4 linked regions of the Homo sapiens genome follow. The protein of the gene in region 3 purifies or fractionates together with the protein of the main gene of each other region. This does not show direct contact. Each region holds a gene or a part of one and is shown on either strand. Other genes may lie near its edges.

Region 1 (3,500 bases), on a different chromosome or scaffold from region 3:
CCAAAGGGGCCTGAAGAGAAGAAAGATTGTGAAGTAAGGGATTTTTTTTTTTTTAACTGTGGCATTTGAATATTGCTTGCCTGGCACAAAATGACATTTAGAAGAACTAGATGATTAGTCTGTTTCATTTACTTTGTGCTGTGCATATTGCTCTTAAGTAATTGTTTCCCCCTTATGTTGACTGTTAATCTTTCCATAAACAAATTTTTGTCCGTTAGTGTAAGGGCTATGAAAACTTAGATATTTAAATTGGCCTTAACAATATTTAAAGAATTATTAGGTGGTGTCTACTGACAGTGAAATGACATTTCTTTTCTTTTCACTAGGTTGTGATGATGATTGGCTTGCCAGGAGCTGGAAAAACTACCTGGGTTACTAAACATGCAGCAGAAAATCCAGGGAAATATAACATTCTTGGCACAAATACTATTATGGATAAGATGATGGTAAGTAAAATGTTTAGGGCCTGATCTCAGTGTTTAAAATAGACTGGGAGAGGCTGGGCATGGTGGTTCACGCCTGTAATCTCAGCATTTTGAGAGGCTGAGGTGGATGGATCACCTGAGGTCAGGAGTTTGAGACCCACCTGGCCAACATGGCGAAGCCCCGTTCCTACTAAAAATTTAAAAATTAGCTGGGTGTGGTAGTGGGTTCCTGTAATCCCAGCTGCTCGGGAGGTTGAGGCAGGGACAATTACTTGAACCTGGGAGGCAGAGGTTGCAGTGAGTTGAGATCGTGCCATTGTACTCCAGTCTGGGCGACAGAGCAACACTCCGTCTCAGAAAAAAAAAAAAAAGAAAAGAAAAATTATAGACCGGGAGGTATTCTAGGTAAACTTTTTGTCTTTGTCTCTATCCATTTTGTTAGTATCTTAAAGAGATGGGAGGAAAGGCAAGATTAAGTTGGTTCTTTCAACTCTGAGGGTAAACTGCCTTCCACTGGCTAGGCTTCTGTTTTTTTCCGTAGTGTTTTTGAGCTCTTAACATCTAGCAGCTAAAAAGAATTGAGTAAGTGTAAGGTCTTGTTACATAGTTTAAGTGACCCTGTTTTTGTAGCAATAATGGACAAAGGTAATATTTAAATTATAAAATGTTGCCTGCTTTACATATAGATATGAGTTGAATTTTAAAAAGCATAACTTATTAAAATTCACAAGTTCAAGGGGAAATTTTAACTTTTGAATATAGGTGGCAGGTTTTAAGAAGCAAATGGCAGATACTGGAAAACTGAACACACTGTTGCAGAGAGCCCCCCAGTGTCTTGGGAAATTTATTGAGATTGCTGCCCGAAAGAAGCGAAATTTTATTCTGGATCAGGTACGCTGTAGCTTTGAAATTGAAAAATATTAACTGATAATTTAGATAGATTGGTGTAGAATTAATGTTTAGGGTTGTAAACATAAATTTCTTTTTTTAAAGACAAATGTGTCTGCTGCTGCCCAGAGGAGAAAAATGTGCCTGTTTGCAGGCTTCCAGCGAAAAGCTGTTGTAGTTTGCCCAAAAGATGAAGACTATAAGCAAAGAACACAGAAGAAAGCAGAAGTAGAGGGGAAAGACCTACCAGAACATGCGGTCCTCAAAATGAAAGGCATGGAATTTTAATTCTGTTACTGTGTGAAATCTTCTTTTTAAAAGAATGTTTTTCCTACATATTCTGCTTGTGTAACTATGTTAAATCTATTAGGACTTAGGCCTCCTGAAAGTTAACATTTTTTCCAGCAATACTGCTTCAGGAATTAAAATTGCAGTTGTTACATATGCATATATGTTTGGTCTGTTTTTATTTTTAGGAAAATATGTTACTAAACCTCAAGAATTGTCAGCTTTAGGATTGTGAGGATTCGTGGTGGGTTTCTAAATTAATAATATGACTTTGTTTCCTGCAGGAAACTTTACCCTCCCAGAGGTAGCTGAGTGCTTTGATGAAATAACCTATGTTGAACTTCAGAAGGAAGAAGCCCAAAAACTCTTGGAGCAATATAAGGAAGAAAGCAAAAAGGCTCTTCCACCAGAAAAGAAACAGAACACTGGCTCAAAGAAAAGCAATAAAAATAAGAGTGGCAAGAACCAGTTTAACAGAGGTGGTGGCCATAGAGGACGTGGAGGATTCAATATGCGTGGTGGAAATTTCAGAGGAGGAGGCAAGTTAATTTTGAGTGTTCTGTATTTAGTTCAGGATCGAAACAAGTGATAATTTTATAGTTTGGATGTAGCTGAAGTTTCTTCCTCATTAATGGTATACTGTCACAGTAACTAAAGTATTCATGTGATTTGATATTAAATACACCTAGGTTATGTTAATGGTTAGAATTAAACATTTCTTTTGTCTTTAAACAATTATTTTTGGAGAAAAAGGAACAATCTAGAGGAATCCTAAGTCTTCTGTATAAGTAGGGTACAATATACAATGAAACTAAAACAGCTCTTGTCTTTTAGCCCCTGGGAATCGTGGCGGATATAATAGGAGGGGCAACATGCCACAGAGAGGTGGTGGCGGTGGAGGAAGTGGTGGAATCGGCTATCCATACCCTCGTGCCCCTGTTTTTCCTGGCCGTGGTAGTTACTCAAACAGAGGGAACTACAACAGAGGTGGAATGCCCAACAGAGGGAACTACAACCAGGTAATGATTCAAGATCCCTGGAAGCATGATTGATAACTGTAGCTTAGTCTGGAAAGGTGTGAGCTTTATGTTGGGGTGTCTTAGTAATCCGTAAGGAACATGATAGGCATTGACATAAGGAAAATTGAACTAGTAATGGTGAAATGAGTCTACTTACTTTTGAGTTTTTTCAGGTGTACTAAACAAGTCAGATGCATTTCTCATAATGAATAAAAAATTAAAACATAAGAAACCAGCAGAGGGTATCCAGAATTTGTGTATTGCTTGCTACCTAAGATTAGGGGCTAGCAACCTGTCCATTTCTGCTCCTCTCTCTCACCCCCACAAACCTAACAAGCAATTGGGCTCAGAGCTCTTAGAGAGTATTTCCTTTTTGTAGAACTTCAGAGGACGAGGAAACAATCGTGGCTACAAAAATCAATCTCAGGGCTACAACCAGTGGCAGCAGGGTGTAAGTAATTTCTTATGTGCTTTATGTACATTAATTGTATTTTGAGTTCCTAAGATTTATCAGTCTTGAAAAAGATCTTGTTCAGGGATTGAAGTGTTTATAAGTGTTAATAGGGTAAAGTGTGAATCGTCTTGCAGTAGTAGCCATAATCTACCTTTTGAAGGCAAAATAGGTTGAAGATTGCTATAAGTTAAATTTTTTTAATAAAGTAATATTATTTAATATATACAGTTCTTTTACTGCTAGCTTTAATTGTGTAAACTAACAAAGTCATGATGTTTCGTTTTGTAATGTGTATTGATAATTATGGGATATTAAAACTAAATCTGGTTTGGTAGAAATCAGAGGTATGACAGGTATAAATTTGTTTCCAGCAAATTACTCTGAATTAGATTCATTGTCATTTCCTAAAAACAGTTTGAGTGGCTT
Region 2 (3,353 bases), on a different chromosome or scaffold from region 3:
TTTTGATGATTTAGTTTTAGGAAAGGGCAGCTTTGGTAGTGTGGAAATTGCCTTGGCTCTTGACTTTTAATTTTCAGTTGTCTATTATCCAAAGCCAAGCCTAAAATGAGAAAGTACAGTGGAATTTCTTTGTAGTACTGATCTTGGGGACAAGACTTGTATCATTGTTATGCTAGCTGTGATGTATCAGGCTTTCATGTGGTGGTTTTGGGGGTGATTTCACCTCTGCTACTTCTTAATTTGGGTAACAGGTAGCTGTGTTGTAACAGTTCTGGGAGGACCTAGGCACCTTTTTTTCTTCTAAATTGTTTTTCCCCGAAATCCTTTTTCCAACAGCAAATTGAAGAAGTTCGACAGGTGGGATCCTATAAAAAGGGGACAATGACTACAGGACACAATGTGGCTGACCTGGTGGTGATACTCAAGATTCTGCCAACGTGTGAGTGTGCCTGTTTCTGGTCATGGGAACAGAACATAGCACTTGGATTAGGGGTTTAGGTATCTTTTTTTGTTTTGAGACAAATTCTCCCTCCGTTGGCCAGGCTGGAGTGCAGTGGTACCATTGTAGCTCACTGCAGCCTTGACCTCCACTACAGCAAGTGATCTTCCCGCCTTAGCCTCCCGAGTAGCTGGGACTACAGATGTGTGCTACCACACCCAGCTAATTTTTGTATTTTTTGTAGATACAGGGTTTCACCGTGTTGCTCGGGCTGGTCTCAAACTCCTGAGCTCAAGCAATCTGCCCACCTCAGCCTCCCAAAGTGCTGGGATTACAGGCGTGAGCCACTGTGCCCAGCCCTTACGGATCTTGAAAGCTCAAATTTCTTGTGAGAAAGGATGTTTGTAAGACAAATGTTTCTAGTTTTTGTTTTTGAGACGGATCTCACTCTGTTGCCCTGGCTGGAGTGTAATGGCGTGATCTCGGTTCACTGCAACCTCCACCTCCTGGGTTCTAGCTGTTTTCCTGCCTTGGCCTCCCAAGTAGCTGGGATTACAGGCAAGTGCCACCATGCCAGGCTAATTTTTCTATTTTTAGTAGAGACGGGGTTTCACCATGTTAGCTAGTCTGGTCTCAAACTCCTGACCTCAGGTGATCCGCCCGCCTTGGCCTCCCAAAGTGTTGGGATTACAGGCGTGAGCCACTGCACCCTGCCTGACAAATGTTTTTTAATGAGTGATAAGGGACAAACGCTGGAGTGTGTGTGTCTGAAAGAATGTATAGCAGGTTACTGTACGGCCATGTTTCTCAACTGGAGGTAATTTTGCCACCCAGGGGATATCTGGCAGTATCTGGCGGTACTTTTGATTGTTAAAACAAGGGGGTGCTACTGGCATCAAAAAAGGGTAGAAGCCAGGTGTGGTGGCTGTATTCCCAGCACTTTGGGAGGCTGAGGCAAGAGGATCACTTGACCCCAGGAGTTTGACCAGCCTGTATAACATAGAGAGATCCTGTACCTACAAAAAGAAAAAAATTAGCTGGGCATGGTGGTGCATGCTTTGGTCCCAGCTACTCAGAAGCCTGAGGTGGGGCCGGGTGCAGTGGCTCACGCCTGTAATCCCAACACTTAGGGAGGCCAAGGCCTGGAGTTCAAGACCAGCCTGGCCAACGTGGCAAAACCCAGTCTCTACCAAAAATATAAAAATTAGCCAGGCGTGGTGGTGGGCGTCTGTAATCCCCACTACTTGGGAGGCTGAGGCAGGAGAGTTGCTTGAACCTGGGAGGCAGAGGTTGGAGTTAGCAGAGATCGTGCCAGTGCACTTCAGCTTGGGTGACAGAGTGAGGCCCTGTCTCAAAAATAAGAAAAAAAGAAAAAAAAAGCAGCAGCCTGAGGTGAGAGGATTGCTTGAGCCCGGGAGGCTGAGGCTGCAGTGAGCTGTGATTGTGCCACTGCACTGCAGCCTGGGTGACAAGAGTGAGACCCTTTCTCAAAAAAAGAAAAAGGATAGAGGCCGTGGATGCTGTTAAACATCCTACATCCCCATCACCCCAAAGATTTGTCTAGCCCAAAATGTTATTAACTGCCACTGACCTGAAAAACCCTGCTGTAGAAAGAGGATATGAGTACAGGAGGGGTCCTGTTCCCTGAGTCTTCCAATTTTTCTGCCCAGGCCTTGGCTTTCTCTTATAAAAGTATATATTCTATTACTTACCCTTGCTTCAGCCTTGGATATGGGACAGAAATGAGAGTGCAAAGTAGCTTAGAGATACATAGAAAGTCTAGGCAAATAAATTATTATAACATTATGTCATTTTCTGTCAATTAGTGGAAGCTGTTGCTGCCCTGGGGAACAAAGTCGTGGAAAGCCTAAGAGCACAGGATCCTTCTGAAGGTTTGCATTTGTTGCTGATTCTGTATTTAGTAGCCATAGGAACCAGGTCTTGTAATTGTAAGTACACTTTCAACAAAATCAGATCAGACCAGATGGAAGAGTAAATGCAGAGTTTTATGTTGTGGGAGTTTTTGGCAGGGGCTTCAGGTGTTCAAGGTGTTCAAGGGAGATCTGTTTGATCTCCCTTCTAAAGCTCTGTATTCTAAATTCTCATTCTGGACTTTGTGCTGTTTTAAAAAATCCACCTGTTCCCCCCCACCCTGGATTTAACTTTGATCATCTAATGGAAATGTGAGTTATAGTTTTTGTTTATTCTGTTTTTTCAGTTTTAACCATGCTGACCAACGAAACTGGCTTTGAAATCAGTTCTTCTGATGCTACAGTGAAGATTCTCATTACAACAGTGCCACCCAATCTTCGAAAACTGGATCCAGAACTCCATTGTTAGTTCTTTTTTTTCCATTGCTGGAAAATTTAGGGGATATTCAAAACATGGTATTGTTGCTGTTTAGTTTACTTAGCTTGTTGCTATTCCACATGCAGCTTCCTGGGAATTGAAGAACTTAGGTTTATTCTGAACTTTGCTCTCTCCCTCTGTAATTTGGAAATAGTTTATCAGCTTGCTAGTGGAATTTTCAGATGGGGTGACCAAGAAAGCATTTGGAGGACTTAAAAAGGACTGAGAAAATATTTATGGAGGGGGATAGGCTTTTGAAGAAAACAGATCTTGCATGTTTCTAGTGATTTTTAGACAAGTGATTTGCTGATATGAGAAACACAGGGTGGCTTAAAGAATTGCAGAGTTGGTCGGGTGCGGTGGCTCACGCCTGTAATCCCAGCACTTTGGGAGGCTGAGGCAGGCAGATCACCTGAGGTCAGGAGTTGGAGACCATCCTGGCCAACATGATGAAACCCCGTCTCTACTAAAATAAAAAATTAGTGGGGCATGATGGCGGTTACCTGTAATCCCAGCTACTCAGGAGGCTGAGGCAGGAGAATTGCTCGAACCCGGGAGGCGGAGG
Region 3 (3,497 bases):
GTTCAGAGTAGATCTTTCATTGAGGATTGCCCTCAACAGCTTAACTACTTTCCTCACATTGGTGTCCAGCTAAGTACCTCAAGTTAAAGGTAAGATCCCTTTACCAGCAGATCATCAGTGCGATGAATTAGGTTGTTGTAAATTATGGCAAGTGTCTGTGTTGCAAGAGACACGTATTTGGGTCATGTGACCAGAAGCATCTAATGGTCTAATTCTCTTTAATGCAAAAGTCGGTTTATGAAAGACTTGGTTTAACCTGTGTGGTATAAACTTACTGAAAATCAGATGTAGTGAGAGTAGTTTGAATGCTTGTAGTCTCAGTATCTGAAATAAGTGTTTTGAAATTGTTCCTGGGCCTAAAGTATTTGAATGTTTTTATGCTGAAGAGCTGATAAGATTGCATGTTTAACAATGTTAGATAAGATATCGTATATTTTAAGTATTAATATTTATGATGTGATACGCTGGAAGCAGGAAATCCTTTCATGGTTTAGTGTAGTATGTTAAAAATTGATATATGTATCGAGTCCTAATGTCAGAATTTTTAAAATCAAGTCTGTTTTGTTTTGACACTAAATTGGTGAGAATTGAATGCTGTCAACGTTAAATATGAACATAATTTCATATCTTCTAGGAAAGTGCTTTAAGTCCTTTTTGTAAGCTTGGGAATGTATCCACGGAAAGGATTTTTCATAGACGGAATTTCCAGAAGTGAATCATAACTACTGTTAGAGCATAAGCATGCATGATTGTGCTGTGTAGATCAGTTTTGTTGAAAGTTTAGATTGTTGTGTTTGTCAATTATAATTTAATGTTTCAGTTTTTATATGAAATGTTGTAAATGTATACCTTTTTAAAAACTTGAAGTTCCAATAACTTAAAGCATTGAAATATAAAATGAGGTAAAAGGTGTTTTGAATTTAGTAAAACTGTTATTTAATGCTTAAAACTTAATTGAATTGTATAATTCTCAACATTAAGTTGCATAGATATGTGTTCTTAAGTTGTTGAATTCTTAATGCATCCTGTGTTCAGCAAGTTTTTTTTAATATATACTGTACCATGGGTGTGTTAAGAATAGTTATACTTTATAATAATGGAACTTCATATTATTGCAATGCATATTTAAAGAGTACTTGTTGAAAGCATACCATTCACCTAAAGTTAAAAATTCTGGTTTATTTAAAGCTATAAGAAGAATCATTTCTGGGCTTGTGATGTTAATATTGCCCCCCTACTGGGGTTATTTGTCCTTGGGTTGAAGGGTTGGAAATCGTGCCAAATGGGATAACATTGCCGGTGGACTTCCAGGGGAGGAGTACGGGGGAGGCCTTCGTGCAGTTTGCTTCACAGGAAATAGCTGAAAAGGCTCTAAAGAAACACAAGGAAAGAATAGGGCACAGGTGGGGATGGATGGTTGGTTGGATATGTCACTTTTCTTATGGTAAACAATTAAATCCATATTCTCTCTGCTTAAAAGAAGAAATTAATGTTTTGTAGTCCTAGGTAATTGATGTTTTGCCATGATTTCCAAACTTGTGTCAGTCCCACGTTACACGCAAACTAAATTTTAGGTTTGAAATTTGTCCCTAGTTAATTGGTCTGCTTGACAATTTTGTGAGTCTTATTAACCCCAATCAATAGAGTTGAGAGACTATGGCTTTAAAAAATTAATGCAAACCTGGCTTTAGCTGTAATAACACCCACCTAGAATAAATTAATATTACCATAAGAAAATGTGATACTTTCTGATCTTGTTTTTAAAGTTGAAATGCAACAAACTTTTTCTTGCTGTATATAAATATTCTGCATAGTATTAATAAGCATAGCTTTCAAGAAATTGTCACAAAAGGTTTTATTCTCTTTGCTTGTGACTATTTTTCATTGAAGCATGCGCTTACCTATGCTGATTCTTACTAAAAGCATAGGCTGGGGTATTTATTGGCGAAAGGAAATGTGTAGTGTGGGCTGGACTGTTGGTGGAGGCTGGCTTTTTAGCCCACTTGCTATACATGCTGCCAATGGATTTAAGACTTGAAATGTTGAAAGTTGAGTGGAATTATTTCCCTCCTAAAACATTTATTTACAGTACTCCTCTCTACCCCTAAGGTTGGGCTCTGCCTCAGAGGAGTGAGTTTTTTTTTTTTTTCTATAAAGTTTACATTGTCTTACTATTTATTGAGTGAATTTCTGGTCATTGCCTATGCAAATATAAGAAATCTGGCTTTAAATATTAGTCAGTTTCATGGCTATGACTAGATTGTTTTCTTGTATAACTAAATACCTGTATAAAATGAACTAATGTTTTCTCTCCCCTCCCTACCCCTTCCTTATGAACAATGCTTTAGGTATATTGAAATCTTTAAGAGCAGTAGAGCTGAAGTTAGAACTCATTATGATCCACCACGAAAGCTTATGGCCATGCAGCGGCCAGGTCCTTATGACAGACCTGGGGCTGGTAGAGGGTATAACAGCATTGGCAGAGGAGCTGGCTTTGAGAGGATGAGGCGTGGTGCTTATGGTGGAGGTACGTGAGGATTCGTAAGGTTCGGCAAGTCGTCTGTTCCTTTGTCTAGGTGTTTTATTTGATTGATTGTACTTTGTCTTTCAGGCTATGGAGGCTATGATGATTACAATGGCTATAATGATGGCTATGGATTTGGGTCAGATAGATTTGGAAGAGGTAAGGTAAGAATTGAATTTCTCAGTTGAAGGATGCTTACACTCTTGTCCATCTAGACCTCAATTACTGTTTTTCAGGAATGTCTGATCACAGATACGGGGATGGTGGCTCTACTTTCCAGAGCACAACAGGACACTGTGTACACATGCGGGGATTACCTTACAGAGCTACTGAGAATGACATTTATAATGTAAGTGTGAGATGAACTCACAAGTCAATATTTCAGTATGGCAGTAAGTCAGCCTTATTCTATAAATGTGAGCACTATGTTAGAAATTTTAGGTTTTTTTTGTAACGTTAGAAAGTTGGTTGAATTCTTTGAAATGCCTTGTGTTGTAGTTTTTTTCACCGCTCAACCCTGTGAGAGTACACATTGAAATTGGTCCTGATGGCAGAGTAACTGGTGAAGCAGATGTCGAGTTCGCAACTCATGAAGATGCTGTGGCAGCTATGTCAAAAGACAAAGCAAATATGCGTAAGTGTGATTGAGCATTTGTGGGCTCTTAACAGGTGATTGTGTGACTAACATTTACAATAGAGAAATGGAAAAATAAGGATATATGAGAAGTTTCCTCTCCAGTAATAGATTAATTCTTGGGGGATGCGGGGGCAGTGTGTTGAAGGTTTGGGTTTTAAAAATTAGTATAACGGATTTGTGATATGCACATCTTGAAGTGTATATCCTTAATTGACAATACAGATGAATATGTAAAGGCTAGATTTTGGAGTTAAAGTAGATCACCTAAGAGAAGTAGCTAGAATTTCTTTGCCAAAGTATTTGAAGTTCACAGATCTGCTTGTTTAAAAACTTTAT
Region 4 (2,437 bases), on a different chromosome or scaffold from region 3:
TCCTGCCTCAGCCTCCCGAGTAGCTGGAACTACAGGCACGCGCCACCACACCCAGCTAACTTTTGTATTTTTAGTAGCTATGGGGTTTTACTATGTTGGCCAGGCTGGTCTCGAACTCCTGATCTCAAGTGATCTGCCCACCTAGGCCTCCCAAAGTGCTGGGATTACTGTGAGCCCACGCTCCCAAAGTGCTGGGATTACAAAGGCATGAGCCACTGTGCCCAGCCCCCTGCCGTTTTTTTTTTTTTTTGAGAGGGAGTTTTGCTCTTGTTGCCCAGGCTGGAGTGCAATGGCACAATCTTGGCTCACTGCAACCTCTGCCTCCTGGATTCAAGCATTCTCCTACCTCAGCCTCCCAAGTAGCTGGATTACAGGCATATGCCACCATGCCCAGCTAATTTTTGTATTTTTAGTAGAGATGGGGTTTCACCATGTTAGCCAGGCTGGTCTCGAACTCCTGACCTCACCTGATCCATCTGCCTCAGCCTCTCAGAGTGCTGGGATTACAGGTGTGAGCTACCACGCTTGGCCCCTTTTTTTCTTTTTCTTTTTTTTTTTTGAGATGGAGTCTCACTCTGTCACCCAGGCTGGAGTGCAGTGTCGCAATCTTGGCTCACTGCAACCTCTGTCTCCCGGGTTCAAGTGATTCTCGTGCCTCAGCCTCCTGAGTAGCTGGGATTACAGGCGTGCACCATATCGCCTGGCTAATTTTTGTATTTATTTATTTATTTATTTATTTATTTTTTGAGACGGAGTCTCGCTCTGTCTCCCAGGCAGTGGCACTATCTCGGCTCACTGCAAACTCTGCCCCCTGGGTTCACACCATTCTCCTGCCTCAGCCTCCCGAGTAGCTGGGACCACAGGCACCCGCCACCACGCCTGGCTAATTTTTTGTGTTTTTAGTAGAGATAGGATTTTACCTTGTTAGGATGGTCTCGATCTCCTGACCTCGTGATCTGCCCTCCTTGGCCACCCAAAGTGCTGGGATTACAGGCGTGAGCCACTGCTCCCGGCCTAATTTTTGTATTTTTAGTGGAGAGGGGCTTTCACCATGTTGGCCAGGCTGGTCTCAAACTCCTGACCTCAGGTGATCCGCCCACCTCGGCCTCCCAAAGTGCTGGGATTACAGGCATGAGCCACCGTGCCTGGCCTTTTTTTTTCTTTTAACTCTCACAACAACCCTATCTTCATTTTACAGATGTGGAAGTTGAGGCACAGAACAGTTAAATAAAAACAATTTAAAAATTGTGGTAAAAGATGCATAACCTAAATTTACCATGTAACCATTTTAACGCATATAATTCAGTAGCCTTTTAGCACAATGGCAGTGTTGTGCAACCATCACCACTACCTAGTTCCAGAATCTTTTCATCACCCTAAAAGGAAACCCTGTGCTCACCAAGTAGTCATTCTCCATTCCTTCCTTCTCTGAGCTCTTGGCAACCACTAATTTGCTTTCTGTCTCTGTGGGTTTATCTGTTCTGGATAGGCAAATGTGAGTTGCCTGTAAAGGGAATCATAACAATATGTGGCCTTTTGTGTCTGGCTTCTTCCACTTAGCGTATTTTCAAGGTGCATCCATGCCGTAGCATGTATCAGCACTGCATTCCTTTTTATGGCTGAATAATTCCATCATATGCATATACCACATTTTGTTTTTCCATTCATCCATTGATGGACATTTGATGTTGTGTCTACCTTTTGGTGATTGTAAATAGTGCTGCTGTGAGTATCCTTGTTTTATTTGAACAGCTGTTTTCAGTTCTTTTGGGTATATGTTTAGGACTGGGATTGCTGGGTCATATGGTAATTCTATATTTATGTTATGGAACTAGTTAAGTAAATTTCAGCTCAATCACACTTTTTTTTTTTTTTTTTTTTTTTTTTTTGGAGACAGGGTCTCACTCTGTGCAATGGCACGATCTTGGCTCACTGCAGCCTCCACCTCCCAGGTTCAAGCGATCCTCCCACCTCAGCCTCTTGAGTAGCTGGGATTACAGGTGCATGCCACTGCACCCAGCTAAATTTTTTGAATTTTTTGTAGAGACAGGGTTTGCGACATTGTTCAGGCTGGCCTTGAACTCCTGAGCTCAAGCAGTCCACCCACCTTGGCCTCCCAAAGTGCTAGGTTTACAAGGGTGAGCTACCGTGCCCGGCCCAGTCCGATGTTTGGTAATTGACAAAACACGGATTTGAAATCAGACAGTCTGGCTTTAGACCCCTTGCTCTGAACTATCACTTTATTGCTTATCACTGTTACTGTTGTTCCAGTATTAAGAGCATGGCTGTTTTAGGCTGATTGCCTTCTCTCCTGGGACCTGGCATCACCAAAGCACTATGTGCTCGGAAATCCATTATCTTTCCCCAGTCTTTCCTCCGTTATTGTGAGGCCTTTTGAAAATGTACCTTCCGGCCTCCCTGATGTCAGAGGGAGGCA

The links.
Region 1: the proteins of HNRNPH1 (region 3) and HNRNPU purify together in Homo sapiens (affinity purification with mass spectrometry; 4 studies listed by BioGRID and IntAct, with this or other methods). This does not show direct contact.
Region 2: the proteins of HNRNPH1 (region 3) and ILF2 fractionate together in Homo sapiens (co-fractionation; 3 studies listed by BioGRID and IntAct, with this or other methods). This does not show direct contact.
Region 4: the proteins of HNRNPH1 (region 3) and COPRS purify together in Homo sapiens (co-immunoprecipitation; 3 studies listed by BioGRID and IntAct, with this or other methods). This does not show direct contact.

Annotation. Positions count from the first base shown.
Region 1 is NC_000001.11:244,854,544-244,858,043, reverse strand, and holds part of HNRNPU (heterogeneous nuclear ribonucleoprotein U), read left to right. Parts: coding exon 1-33; intron 34-326; coding exon 327-446; intron 447-1,187; coding exon 1,188-1,316; intron 1,317-1,418; coding exon 1,419-1,587; intron 1,588-1,885; coding exon 1,886-2,140; intron 2,141-2,435; coding exon 2,436-2,620; intron 2,621-2,999; coding exon 3,000-3,071; intron 3,072-3,500. UniProt on the Homo sapiens protein: DNA- and RNA-binding protein involved in several cellular processes such as nuclear chromatin organization, telomere-length regulation, transcription, mRNA alternative splicing and stability, Xist-mediated transcriptional silencing and mitotic cell progression.
Region 2 is NC_000001.11:153,664,641-153,667,993, reverse strand, and holds part of ILF2 (interleukin enhancer-binding factor 2), read left to right. Parts: intron 1-336; coding exon 337-439; intron 440-2,265; coding exon 2,266-2,331; intron 2,332-2,657; coding exon 2,658-2,774; intron 2,775-3,353. UniProt on the Homo sapiens protein: Chromatin-interacting protein that forms a stable heterodimer with interleukin enhancer-binding factor 3/ILF3 and plays a role in several biological processes including transcription, innate immunity or cell growth.
Region 3 is NC_000005.10:179,617,175-179,620,671, reverse strand, and holds part of HNRNPH1 (heterogeneous nuclear ribonucleoprotein H), read left to right. Parts: intron 1-1,264; coding exon 1,265-1,403; intron 1,404-2,348; coding exon 2,349-2,527; intron 2,528-2,611; coding exon 2,612-2,683; intron 2,684-2,739; coding exon 2,740-2,873; intron 2,874-3,022; coding exon 3,023-3,158; intron 3,159-3,497. UniProt on the Homo sapiens protein: This protein is a component of the heterogeneous nuclear ribonucleoprotein (hnRNP) complexes which provide the substrate for the processing events that pre-mRNAs undergo before becoming functional, translatable mRNAs in the cytoplasm.
Region 4 is NC_000017.11:31,853,808-31,856,244, reverse strand, and holds part of COPRS (coordinator of PRMT5 and differentiation stimulator), read left to right. Parts: intron 1-2,437. UniProt on the Homo sapiens protein: Histone-binding protein required for histone H4 methyltransferase activity of PRMT5.